Homo sapiens: one gene and its partner. Changing the gene in region 1 together with any one later gene gives a genetic interaction. Each region holds a gene or a part of one and is shown in the gene's direction. Other genes may lie near its edges.

Evidence for each region. Genes that interact genetically often act in the same process or in processes that back each other up.
Region 2: of PIK3R5 (region 1) and GNG2, changing one enhances a phenotype caused by changing the other (phenotypic enhancement), as found in Homo sapiens cells (one study listed by BioGRID).

Annotation. Positions count from the first base shown.
Region 1 is NC_000017.11:8,899,708-8,906,731, reverse strand, and holds part of PIK3R5 (phosphoinositide 3-kinase regulatory subunit 5), read left to right. Parts: intron 1-149; exon of another isoform or gene 150-328; intron 329-994; coding exon 995-1,063; intron 1,064-1,816; coding exon 1,817-1,955; intron 1,956-4,415; exon of another isoform or gene 4,416-4,454; intron 4,455-5,414; exon of another isoform or gene 5,415-5,509; intron 5,510-5,831; exon of another isoform or gene 5,832-5,935; intron 5,936-7,024. UniProt on the Homo sapiens protein: Regulatory subunit of the PI3K gamma complex. Required for recruitment of the catalytic subunit to the plasma membrane via interaction with beta-gamma G protein dimers. Required for G protein-mediated activation of PIK3CG.
Region 2 is NC_000014.9:51,856,372-51,863,633, forward strand, and holds the start of GNG2 (guanine nucleotide-binding protein G(I)/G(S)/G(O) subunit gamma-2 precursor), read left to right. Parts: upstream 1-4,240; 5' UTR 4,241-4,419; intron 4,420-4,952; exon of another isoform or gene 4,953-5,019; intron 5,020-7,262. UniProt on the Homo sapiens protein: Guanine nucleotide-binding proteins (G proteins) are involved as a modulator or transducer in various transmembrane signaling systems.

The DNA of each region.
Region 1 (7,024 bases):
TTTGTATTTTTAGTACAGATGGGGTTTTGCCATGTTGGTCAGGCTGGTCTCGAACTCCTGGCCTCAAGTGATCCACCTGCCTCGGCCTCCCAAAGTGTTGAGATTACAAGCATGAGCCACTGGGCCCAGACTAAATATTTCAATTTCAGAAAACGAAGCTTCAAAGAAGATAAGAAAGTATATATGAATATTTACATGATCCTTGCATGCAAAAGCAAAAATCCATGAAGGAAAAATCAACACCTGTAATTTCTGTACATCAAAAATATTTATAAAATTAAAAGGCAAACAACCAACTGGAAAAAAATATTTATAACACAAATAACAGGTAAATGTATAACCAGAAGGGAAAAAAGGTGGTCTTAGAGACCGTATAGTAAAACAGAAATTTACTTATAATACTATATGTAAAATACGTTAGGAGTAAAAATATACACACAGCTTATAGCTTCGCAGACACAGGAACAGAAAACCAAACACCGCATGTTCTCACTCATAAGTGGGATTTGAACAATGAGAACACATGGACACAGGGAGGGGACATCACACACCGGGGCCTGTCGGGGATGGGGGACAAGGGGAGGGAGAGCATTAGGACAAATACCTAATGCATGTGGGGCTTAAAACCTAGATGACAGGTTGATGGGTGCAGCAAACCACCATGGCACATGTATACCTATGTAACAAACCTGCCCGTTCTGCACATGTATCCCAGAACTTAAAATAAAATTTAAAAACAAAGAAAAGAAAATACATAGGGCAAAAATGGCATCAGAAGAGGGACATTGAAACAGCTGTGGTTGGGTTTGGGAGGGGAAATTGTAAGTGTTTTCGTTTACATCCATTTTCCAAATGTTTGTCATGTGATTGCACTATTTTCCCCTAAAAAAAAAAAAAAAAGAAAGGCTAGAATGAGGAAGAACCACTGTATTCTGCCTCAGGGAGCCCTGGACCCCGTGAATGAGGCTCATTCCCCTTCTCCTCCTCTCCACAGGTCCAGGAGAAGGGCACCTACGACCTGCTCACCCCGCTGGCCCTGCTCTTCTATTCCACTGTTCTTTGTGTAAGTCCACGTGGGCCAGGATGCTGGAGGTGAGGGAGGAGGGGGAGGAGCGACCTCTATCTGGGGCAGAGCCCTCACACCTCTGGAGATAAGCAGAGAGAGAAACTGTCAAGCAGCGGCATGTGAAATGGGTTTCAACCCTTAGATGGCTTCAGAGCAGCCACCATGAGAGGCTTCTGGTGACTCCATGTGGCCGCCATGGTGCCTGGCATCTCTGGGCTCCCATGTTGGAACTGCTGTCACTGTCTGTTCACAGGCCACAAGAGATATTCTATGTCCACCTCATTTTTCACCCCAGTAGTCGGTTTCACCCAATGTGATCACCCCCTGTATTCACCAGACAGGGGGGCATCAAATGTGTACACTGACTGAATCCATCCTCAAAAAATAAACATTTACCTGTAATGAGGCTATTTAAGTAAAGGTGGTTTAGGCATTGAAGACCATTATCCATAACAAGTGTCAGCAATGGCACCATTTACCAGTAAGGGGACAGCCTTTCAGAGAGGCTCACTCAAGCATTGGGTAAAGCAAGTCCCTCCCAGTAGAGACACCCTGGGTGCCATCTTGCCCATCTGTAACCCACTCCCTGTGAGTAACTTCCAGTTCCACCTGACCTTGTCCTGGGACACGCTGCGGCCAGGAAATGTGTGTCTTTTGTGGAATATTCCAGAAAGGGAGCAGAAGCTGTCTGGGACTATCTGAGCCTTTTCTCACCTAGATCTCTTTGCTTGTTGCCTGCCTCCATCCTAGACACCACACTTCCCACCAGACTCGGATCTCCTTCTGAAGGCAGCCAGCACCTACCACCGGTTCCTGACCTGGCCTGTTCCTTACTGCAGCATCTGCCAGGAGCTGCTCACCTTCATTGATGCTGAACTCAAGGCCCCAGGTAAGCACTGAGGCAGCTGGCACGGGGGACAGGGCTCAGAAGGTCAGAATGCTTCCAACTCCTCTGAAACTGTTTTTTGTGACCCTCCTTACCTTGCATCCTTTGATTCATCTCTGCCAACGCCTTGGTTCACAAACATGGAGTCTCCTCTTCACAGCACCATCAAGCATCTGATGGTTGAATCCACACAAGATGAAAGTAAATATGGGAGGTAACTCGAGGAGGGATTGTTAGGGGAAGTAGGAGCAGGCACTCAGGGCAAGGAGACCCCACCTTGGCCTGTGCCTCTGATCTGGTTAGTCAAGGGGTCTCCAAGGCTACCCAGATCAGACAGAGAAGCCCCCAGGATGCTGACAAGAGGGCTTTGCATGTTCTCTGTGCCCCAGGAACAAGTAGGTAATTGTGTGTGTGGGTTGATGCAGTTTGGGTTGGGGAAGGTGGCTGGTACTAGGAACAATGACCACTGTGACAAATGTGGACAAGACCCGGGACTCAGTTTTCATGTGTGGGGTCTGAAAAGTAAGAATTCTTCAGAAATTGCAGGTGCTGTCATAGACATGCAAATCAGGTCTAAGGAAGCTACAGTAGTGCAGGAGAAAACTTAGCAAGTGTGATTTACTGAGAAGCGGCTCAGCGAATCAGTACTCAAAGGAATAAATTCGCAAAAGCATCTCAATAGATGCCTCTAAAATATTTCATAAAATTCATCATCATTCCTGATATTCAAAACCCCTCAATATATGGAAACGATTACTCTAGAAGTGCTTTTAATATGGCAACAGCCCAAGGTAAAATACTAGAGGCATGTTCTTTAGAGCCAATAATCTTCCTCTTTTGGCTTATAGGTATTTGCCTATGCAAAAAGACAAAAATAAAGAATACTTTCTCTTCTGAAGAAGAGAAATTTTAATTAGTTGGAGCTCAAACAATTGGTTTTCTGTCGAGACTGAGAGAATCCCCTGAACAAAGAATTGTCAGAACTAGAAAACAGGTAGCTAAGAGCTTTTTTTATAAACCAGCATTAACCAGTGAGAAAACATAATTTTAAAAAATTTACAATAGCAATTAAAAATAAAAAATAAAAGAAATTTTAATAACCTATATAGAGAAAACAAACTTTGCTGAAGAATGAATAATTGAAGAATCGTATTGCTGGGTTGAATCAATATTGTAACGAGACCAGGTGTTAGGAAAGTAAACGTAACCACAATCAAAATACCAAGATATTTTTAAAATTTATAAAATATATGTAAACTAAAAAACATAATATATAAATATTTTACAAATAAATAAATTTATATATAAAGAAAATAAAAAAATCTATTTGAAAGATTTATTTATGCACTTAGTATATATTCATTCATGTATTTTTAAAGGAGAGTAAGAAGGAAATATTTCCATTTTTTGAAGGTACTATAGGGCTATAGTTATTAAAATAGTACACTATGGGTATAAGAATAGATAGATAATGGAAGAAGATGTAATATCTAGAAATATATTAAATATACAAAATTATATTATATGACAAAGTGGCATCCTCAAATTACTGATGAAAAAATCAGTCATTTCATAGATGATATCAGGATAATTGGTAGACCATAAAAAATATTGAGTTAGAAGACTATCTAAAAAGGCCAGGTGTGGTGGCTCATGCCTGTAATCCCAGCACTTTGGGACGCCAAGGCGGGCAGATCACCTGAGGTCAGGAGTTCGAGACCAGCCTGACCAATATGGTGAAACCCCATCTCTACTAAAAATAGAAAATTAGCTGAGTGTGGTGGCATGAGCCTGTAATCCCAGCTACTCAGGAGGCTGAGGCAGGAGAATCACTTGAACCCAGGAGGTGGAGGTTCAAGTGCCTCCGAGATCACACCATTGCACTCCAGCCTGGGCAACAAGAGCGAAACTCTGTCTCAAAAAAAAAAAAAAATTCTATCTAAAAAATAAAATTAAGAGTTCTAATGCAAACATAAAAATAACTTTTAGATACATTAAAGGTTTAGGTGTAGAAGACAAGACCACAAAAACTACAGAAGAAAAATAGGTTGTATTAGCCTGGAGTGGAGAAGAGCTGCCAAACATATTCCCCAGGGCAAAAATTATAAAGGAAAAGACTAACAGATATGAAAGCATAAAATTTAAAGCTTTTCATATGGCAAGCCCACTTTGAGTGAAAGGTAAATGACAAACTGAGAAAAATATTTGCAATAAAAATTAATATATCAGGCCAAGTGCTGTGGCTCAGACCTGTAATCCCAGCATTTTGGGAGGCCGAGGTGGGCAGATCATGAGGTCTGGAGATCGAGACCATCCTGGCCAACATGGTGAAACCCGTCTCTACTAAAAATACAAAAATTATTTGGGCGTGGTGGCATACACCTGTAGTCCCAGCTACTCGGGAGGCTGAGGCAGAGAATCGCTTGAACCTGGGAGGCAGAGGTTGCAGTGAGTCAAGATCGTGCCATTGCACTCCAGCCTGCAGACAAAGCGAGACTCCATCTAAAAAAAAAAAAAAAAAAAAAAAAAATTAATATATCAAACCCATGAAGAGGTTTTTTTTTTAGTCCATTAAGAAATAGGCAAATACACTTATGGAAATATGAATAAATATGATTCAAGTACATCAAAAAGAACCCCCCAAAATATTCACCCTCACTACTCATAAAGAAAATGCAAAACTAAAGAGCAAGACTCTTCTTCCCCCCCTATCAAATTGGCAAAAATTAAAAAGAAAGAACAAAAATGCCAGCGCTGGTGAGGAATGGGGGGCTGTGTTTGCTAAAGCATCAGAAAGCATACCCTTTCACCCAGCAATTCCATTCCTCAATTTTATCCTGATGAATCCCTATGGATGTACAAAGATGTAGCTACAAAACAAAGACGTTCATCAACGCATCCTTGCTAATAATCAACCAATGCCAAAAAACCTAAATATTGAACATGGTTGAGTATACTGCGGCAAAGTCATTTGGTGGAATGATATTCAATTATTAAAAATGATATTGTAGAAATAGTTACTGAGCTCAAAAGATGTTGAATAACTAGTTGAGCGAAAAAGCAGTCCCCCCAATACTAAGTATGTTATAATCCCATTTTTGTTTTCTCTCTTTCTAATGTATACATGCACCAGGTCCTGTTTAGTACTGGCAGCGTTTAATTCTCACCTTACACATTAAACACACACAGAACAGAAGTACCAAATCTTATTCCCCAACAACTTATGGACCCTAGAAAGCTCAAGACTGGCTTGTAAATTTCTTTGGAAGTGTTCATAACTTTCCTACCCAACCAGTTACCTGATCTGTCTGCGCCCCACCCAGTCAGCTGACCTGTCTGTGCCTCGCCCAATCAGCTGATCTACCTGCCCCCCCATCAGTCAGCTGTCTGTCATTACAAAGAGCAGAGCAAGTACAGCTAGGGATGGCCAACCCCCAAGTCTACCTATAACAAGGTCCTCACCTCATGGTAGAGACTTGGGTGGAGATTTAGGACATCAGGAAGACCCTTAGGAGGCGCTGGACTCTGAAAGGTAAAAGCTGGGTTTGCCAACCCAGCTTCCCAAGGAAAGGAACAAACCAGTTAAAGGAACAAACCCTAAAGGAACACGCCAGTTTAAGGTCAAACTCCTTCATTCCCTCCCACACTCCCTCCCACTGTCCCCCAAAACAAACAGATCAGAATGCCTTCTGAGCTTCTGGTTGGTGACTGAAGTTCCTTTGCTAGGAGGCAATGCCTTTCTTCCTTTCGAGTACGCTCAGAGAAAGAATTTAAAATGCAAATGTCTTGGCAGGGCGTTGGGTTTCCACCAAAGACCGAAATGATTCTTTTTTATTTTGAAAAGGATAAGAGAGTTGTGGGGTTGGGGGAGGGGATTACCTGTGGGGAGACCACTTCCCAGTTTCAAGTAGAACCGGCTGTCCCTCCTCAGCTCAATGCACGCTATGCCTTGAGATATTTTTGCAGGCGGCTGGGTAGAAACTCCGTTCTGGGCAGCACAGAAAGCAGATGTGCCACGGAGGTGCTGGCGGTGGTGAGGCCCTGGCCCTGGAATGATAACATGTGAAGCCTGCAGCACAAGGGCCAGGCAGGGCAGCAGCTGGAGCCGGAAGTAGAATGAGGGTCCTTTGGCCTCAGAGCAGGGGGGACTCTTGGAACCATCACTCACTGCTGATGGCCTTTTCCTCCACATCCTTCCCGGGACCATGTGAAGCTTCAGATATCCTGGTGACCAAGGAGAAGTCAGATGCCCCAAGAGGGCAGCTCAAGCCAAGTACCCATGGCAGGAACCTCTCCTCTTCCAGGGAAAGCAGAACCAAAATAGGAAACCATCAACTCTCCCTCGTTTCGGGGAATCATTTTCAAACAGTTCCAAAACCTCACACATACGTAAATATACAGTGAGCCTGTGCCCGCTCATTAATGAGGAAACCAGCACGATGATAGAGCTGGCTTAAAGGAGGATCCAAGAAACTGAGATGAGCTCCTCATGGAAGCTAGAGTAAGACTCAAAGTTAGATACCAAATAGTTAACATCACAGAGGGGAATAAAACCATAACCTTTGAGGTTATCTTTTCTATTGAACAAAAATCTCTTGCAACTTATCTCACATCCACCAGTTAACCTTCAATTTTAAAGAACCTAAGCCCTAATTAATGACAGATAGTTAAACAAAATTACCTTCTACATGACCCTTAAATGAGCTTGTTGAAAAATACTTTCGCACGATTTTTTTTTTTTTAAGATGGAATCTCGCTCTGTCACCCAGGCTGGAATGCAGTGGCACGACCTCGGCTCACTGCAACCTCTGCCTCCTGGGTTCAAGCGATTCTTCTGCCTCAGCTTCCCGAGTAGCTGGGACTACAGGCGTGCACCACCATGCCTGGCTAATTTTTGTATTTTTAGTAGAGACGGGGTTTCACCATATTGGCCAGGCTGGTCTCGAACTCCTAACCTTGTGAGCCGCCCACCTCGGCCTCCCAAAGTGCTGGGATTACAAGCATGAGCCACCGCGCCCAGCCTTTCCTATGATTTTCAACAGGCCTGCTGCCCAATTCCTGAGTCCCTCCCA
Region 2 (7,262 bases), on another chromosome or scaffold:
CTCTTTAAAGTTCCTACAGAGATACAAATAAAGAATAGCTTTCTTTTTAATATTTCTTTTCTTTTTTGTTGTTGTTGTTCGAGACGGAGTCTTGCTCTGTTGCCCAGGTAGAGTGCAATGGCAAAATCTTGGCTCACTGCAACCTCTGCCTCCTGGGTTCAAGTGATTCTCCTGCCTCAGCCTCCTGAGTAGTTGGGACTACAGGCGTGCACCACTACACCCGGCTTATTTTTGTATTTTTAGTAGAGATGGGGTTTCACTGTGTTGGCCAGGCTGGTCTTGAACTCCTGACCTAGTGATCTGCCTGCCTTGGCCTCCCAAATTGCTGGGATTACAGGCATAGGCCACTGAGCCCAGCCTTAATATTTATTTTCTAATTACTTTTTTGTTGCCAGACTATGCTTCTTTATAAGAAGTTCAATGCAGAAATGGAACTAGGAGTTGTCCCAGAATTTTTTAGGCTTGCCCATATAACAAATATTCAGAATTTTGTGTGCATGTGCCATGGATTTCTATAGAAAATTTGCAAAATATATATATAGAGAGGGAGGGATTTTATTTCTTACCCCATGACCAACTTCTCATTTTTGAGACTTCCTTTTCCTCCCCTCACTCAAAGGAATGGAATTTCTGCCAATGATGCCTTTTCATTATACAAACATCTGTTGACTCTGCTGTGTGACAAGCAAATGTGGACCTAACCTTAATGGACCCAAATGCTAATGGGTGAGATGCACATCTAACAAAACCTGAAAATAATGGCTTTAGTGCTGAAATGGAAGTAGAGGCAAGGCACCAGTCATACTCACAGAAAAGGAAGCACCTGCCTAGTTTCCACGGCCAGGGAAGGCTTCTGAGAAAAGCTGAGTCCTAAAGGATAAGTAGGGGTTTACTAGCAGGCAAAATAGAGGAAGGGATAGGGCATTTCTGGCAACAGAAATAGCATGTGCCAAGATGCAGGGAGAAAGCAGCACAGTCCCATCAGGAACCTGTTGTGAAGGTTGTAGGATATAAGGCTGCGACAGGCCCTAAGGTGAGAATGTGGACAGGTGACATCACAGAAGGCTTTGTATGCCATGCAGAGGAATTAAGGCATATATCCTGTAAGCAACCTGGAGGGGAAGATACTGAAGAATTATAGTAGGAAAGTGACTTGATCAACTCTCCATCTCAGCAATGTACTTCTGATGGGGATGGCTTCGAAGAGAGACTGGAGGTAGGAGGACAAAGTAGAAAGTATTGTAATTGCACAGAAAAAACCAAAGCATTTGTAAAATAAGACAGTGGCAAGAGGAAGAGAGAGGAGGGGTTTGGGCAAGGAGATAGTTTGGTGGTGAGAAGGAAAGGAAGAGGAACTTTAAATCAGATTGGGATAACAAAGATAAAAGGTTTTGGGATTATTCTTATATTCCTGATGTGGGCAACTGGTTTGTATTCCTCATTAAATGAAATGGAGAATATAGAAAGAGGAACAGGCTTTGGATGAAGGTATAGTACATAATTTGGGGATTATTAAACATAACTCCAAGGAACATCCAGCTAGAAAGCTCAATAACATAGGAGAGACATCAGGCCAAAATTATGTCCTCCTCATTACCCAACCTCCGCTACCAGTAGATGTAAGAAATACAAGGTATTAATGCCTGCAAATAGGCCATGCATGAATGTTAGAGTATTTTACAGACTTTGTTTTACCCAGTGATAAAATGTACTGGGATAGGCTCATGGTTAGCAATTGATGCATAAACTATTAATGGCGAGATGTCATTTTCCTAAGAAATTAACACTTTGCAAACTTGGTATGCAAACTTGTGTTAAGAGCTCTAAACTGGATTAATCTATCCTGGCCAAGCTATACCCCCACACTTTACTTTTCTCTCCTGAAAAAGAGGCTATTAGGACCAGTTGAAAAGCAATGAGGTATTAATGAAAGAGAGGTCTTAAAATCTAGTTTTTAGCTTTGTATAGAGTTTTGTTGGCACCTCCCAACACTGGCGATTAACCTACTGTGAGTTTTATAAGGGCCAGAGATGGAAGAACTAATTAAAAGGCAGCAGGCAAAATTCCTAGAGATTTTATTGTTTGAAAGAGGTTTTCCTATATAGGCTTAAGTATAAATACCAACCTATATAGGCTTAAATATAAATACCAACCATCGGAGGATGGTTGAGAGAGAGTTAGAAACAAAAAGACACAAAAAATTACTGTACTTGAATCTAGAGTTTATGCCAGAACCTACTTGTCTAAAATTAACCATAGTCTTGTTTCCAACCATTAATAACATGCTTCTCATTTTTCTTAGACTTGGCATCATGCATATTTAAATTTACATTTAAAAGTTCCTGGTAACCTTTGGCACAAGGGTTCCTGGTTTGGAGATAACTCACATGTTGGTGGATTCATGCCCAATCCCTCTCACTACTGCATTTCTATCTGCTGGTGGATCAAAGCTAGTTGCTCATTTTCAATCTTAAATCAATCCATTTTGTAATTTTCAGGTGTGAGTGAGTTGACATCAGGGTCCTTTTTGATGAAAGATTTCCTTGAAAAAATAAGCAAACTGTTCAAATCAAAACAAAGGGTGTTTTGGGACTGTCTCAGAACATTTCATAGAAATTAAATTCTGTACCTTCTAGGTTAACGTGCTGTGGTCCTCACGATGTGTTTGGAAGGCTCAACTGGAGAGTTATTCTCCATCAGTCCTAGATTTCTAACATTTCCTGTTAGTTTACTTGCTGGAGGATTAAGGCAAAACTGGATTAAAAAGGAGGAGTTGGGGAATTAACTGTTTCCTGGCAAGATTAGCTTTCCAGGCACTGATTCCTGAGAAGAGGTGTTTTTTGTTGTTGTTGTTTTTGTTTTTAACTCCATAATGTTGCCTGGACACTAGAACAGGATTCCCCTTCCCCCATCTCATGTTTAATCTGTAGCTTCCCCAAAGTACCTTGTGTTAGTACTAGGGGGAGAATGACTCACACGTTGAATAAATTGTTATTAAAGCATCTGGGCTCAATTGTGAACATACTAATAGTGAGGAATTGGAAAACCAAGTACTGGTGAGGGTTCGGCTGCTGACTGGCGAAATCACTTGCTGAATGTGAGGCCCAACATCCTCTAAAAATAATAAGAGTTAATATGTGCCGAATACGTCCTATATCCCCAGAACTATTATTAGCACCTTGTATACCATCTCATTTAATCCTCATATTTCCAATGTAGAGCATGACTATCATCAACTATGTTTTGCAGATGAGGAAACTGAGGCACATAGATGTTAAATAATTTGCCCAAGTTCATACAGTCATTAATGGCAATTTGGATTGAAATTCTGGCAGACAGAGACAGCTTGCAGGCTCTACCCTGGTGGGTTCTACGATATTACCTCCTAAGATGAAGGGAAGGGACTGGAGGATCATGAGGGTCCTTCAGCCCTACTAGTGTGTGTGGAATGGGGAGAGGAGTATTCAGTTTCTCTGTTGGGAATGTGCAGCATTCAGCACCACCTCATTCCTTCCCATCTATGAGAATCTTTTGGGAATAGTCCTCACTATTAGGCCTATAGGTAGCATTGCCAACTTGGTTTAGTTCCCGTGCCCCATAAGAATACTTATCAGGGCCATTCTTTTCTGAGCATGTGGGTTAAGTAAGATCTCAGTGGTAGTGGGACCTTGGAGAAATGAAGCCTCTGAAATGTTGGCCACAGAGAAAAATGCTGCAGTGAGAAGCTGCAAGCTGCAAGCTGCAAGCTCCCAGCTAGCTGGCTTGATGGGGACCACAGTAAATCAGGAGGAACAGTGGAGGCTGGTGTGGGATCTCGGGGGCCAGAACCTGGCCAGGGGATGTTGACCCAAAAAAAAACAGCAGCAGCAGTAGAAACAACAACAGCAAGAACAACAATAGCAACAAGCCAGGTTCAGGCTAAAAAAGCAGGCAGTGTGCCAGGAAGGGGGCCGACTGAGCAGTGTGTGGAAGCTGTCGTGGAGGTGACCGTGGGGGGATGAGAAAAGGGGAAGGAAGGAACAGACAGCACCAGAGGGACTTGAACAAAGGGAGAAGGGGGATTAAAGTCAAATCACTGTCAGCAGCCCAGGAGCAGACAAAACCACCAGAGTAAGCCCTGAAATGGAAATGAGAGGGAAAAGAAGCAAGCCGCTAACAGCTACCAAGAAGAGGAGGAAGTGGGAGATGCGCTGCTTCCTGTAGAAAGAACGTTGATTGAAGACAAAGCTGGGTGGGGACTAGTCCCTGGGCTGCAGCCGCTGCTACACATACTCACAACGCTGCCGCCGCGCTCCGTGGGCAACTCCTACTACTGCTGGGCTGGGCTGGGCTGGGCTGGGCTGCGCCGGAGCTCGCCTGCACAGATCAGCTCCGGAGAGGGGAAAACCACGCTCCTCGGACCAAGCCTCGGGAGCTAAGGTAAATGAAACGTTTTCCATGTTGCTCGTTTTTAATTGAGAAAAACGACCGTCGCTTGTGGTTTTAAGGTCCGATTTCTAAGGGATGATAGAGACATCGCTTCAGGACTAGGGGAAATGATTAGATTCTTTTGGAAGGGTCTTTGAGAATAACCACATTTATGACACATTTGATTTAAAAAAACCTCATCATCAGTGCTTAGATTTGATGACTAAACAGGCCAACATGCTAAATACAAGAAGCTGTTTGTATAGTTCTCTCGGAGGAAAACCAGGGCTGAGTCGAAATCCATCTGGGGCTGTGAAGCTGTGGTCTGGTCATCGGAGCCCGGCAGTCCCCTTGTTTTAGGGGAGTGAGTGGTGTAAAATATTAATTGCATTCTCTTTCTTACACATTGCACTGGGATATCTTCTGTTTTGCAAAAATAATGGCTGTGATTTGGCTTTTGGGGGAGTTAAATTCTTTTGTACTTAGATTTTGCCAACAAAGGCTTGAATTGCGTATGTGAGGGGCAGTATTTACCATTAAAAAACAGTGTCTTCCTCCCTCAGCTTGTGCAGCTGCTTTCAGGATAACCTCAGACACAGCTATCATTTGCCAGTAGGTCTTATCCTAAAGTTGCATCCTTGTTCAAAGGAGCGTGGCGGGTTTAAGGCCAGTAACTTGTCCAGAATCAGATACTAGCATATGCATGGATTTTATGTTTATATGCATTTTATTCACCTCTAGGTCAAGGTGCATGTTAGCCTCGGTGAGGGACAAAATAAAAAAGTGCAGCTGGGTTGTTTCCTTACGCGAATATCTGGTAGATAGACTGAAGTAGTAAAACCAGAACATGATTTTTATTCTTTGATTTTCTTGAGCAAAGGATGTTCTTAATGAGAGCCTGGGTCTATGACTTGTTCATATTTATGAATGATATGTAAAAGTACACTAAATAGGTCTAGCAGATGAGAACTGAGATTGTGAGATTCCTCTGACAGGATATATTAGGGAGTTTAATACCCTCATGCAGCACGATTTAAAGAATTAAGCTTTTTTAATCTTCAACAGAAAGTACAGTTAAGCAGTAAGTAGTCATTGATAAAAGGGTTTTTCTTCTAGAGTTTCTATAATGAAAGGAGATAATTTTTCAAAAGAAAGAGAAAAAACTGCTTATAGTGGAGTAAAAATTTAAAAAAAGTCAATATTTTGACACTCACAGATTCTTGAAACATAGGTTCTTAGATACCAAATATGCTAGTTGAGAGTGTATGTATGTATATGCCTCCTCCTTTATCATCGTTCTCACTTGTTAAGAGCTATAGGGCTATTTTTAATGCTATCTTTATGAAATCGATATGGCTTCTCAAAATCTGTGGAGTAGCAGCACATTTTGAGAGATGGGAAGCTTTTATAGCTACTAAAGAAAAAAAAAGTCTATTTCTCAGAGGTTTTTTGCTCATTAAAGTAAACCTGCACCATGCCTAAGAGACAAAGTACTGCTAGTATTGAAACCATGGAACTCCTTGAAGGATTCACTGAATTTAATCAAACTTGTGGGCAAAACAAGTCGTGACATGGATTTTGCAGTTCCACTTCCTATTTGCATCTTAAAGGGAAGTATGTAAAGATCATCTTCTTAGAGAAGAGACCTAGGATAGATCTTCGATCCAGAATGACCCAGTGGAGTTCTAGAATCAAGCTGTGCATCATGAAATGAAGTAAAAAGTTGGCAACCTGAGCTGCATGGATAAGGACAGGCTTACCCTTTGGTACTTACTCCTCTGCAGGCTGTATTCACTAGATAATGCCAACACCCTACTTTGTTTGGGGAGGCACAGACAATCTGCATTAGTCTTCTGTGTGTGTTTCACACATGAGTAAGAAAATGAAACCTTGCCCGACGGGCATAGTAGAGTCAAGAGGGCCTTGCTATCTTTCTGAAAACAACTAAGAGGTGCCTATTTTCTGCACAGCACAAAACATTTCTTAATCGTTAAATTCCAGCTTGAAGCAGAACATTAGTGAGTAACAGCAGATCAGTAACTATGATGGTAGAATGTTTAGGAAAAAGATGAATATGCTTCTACATTGTAAAATGAAACTATTTCCACTTATTCTGGCCATATGGAATATTGAAAGACTTAATGATTTTTCCTGGGGTATTCACTGGCTTTTGAGGAGTAGACCAACACAGAAATTTTAATTGTGCTTTTTTTTTTTTTTTCTGCCATATGGCCAATGGCTGAATGGAAACATGACTCCATTATTTCATTGCCAGCCTTGGGCCTCATATGGTGGACATGTAGTGAATGTGTTTGTTTGACTGACTTTGTTTAGCCTGCTTCAGAAAGCAGGCCCAACTTTTAAGTCTAAAAGCTGTATAGTCAAAGTAGAAAGCCTGTTCATAAAAGACTTCTGTGGGTAGGAGAAAACACTGTGGAGTGAAAAGAACGCAGGCTTTGGAGCCAGGCAGATCTGCCTTTGAAACCTATTACTGGTTCTTACTACTTACCTTGGTACATTAACTTAGGAACCTCAGTTTCCTCATTGTAAAGAAGGGCTAGTAATACATAATCAAAGTTGTTGTTTTGCTTTGTTTTTGCTTTTGTGTGCGGATAAGTGAGTGATTTCTACATAGAAGGTACTGAAATGTTATTTTTTTCTTCCTTGGTGGCATAAGGAAAAGTTAGCATATTCTTGGTCTTTACCACTGCCTCACAGGTTTAGGGAGACTTTTTTTATAGTGATAAAATATACATAACATAACATTTCCCATTTTAACTATTTTTTTAAGTATGCAGTTCTGTGGTAGCGAGTACATTGATGTGCTGTCATCACCACCGTCCATCCATAGAACT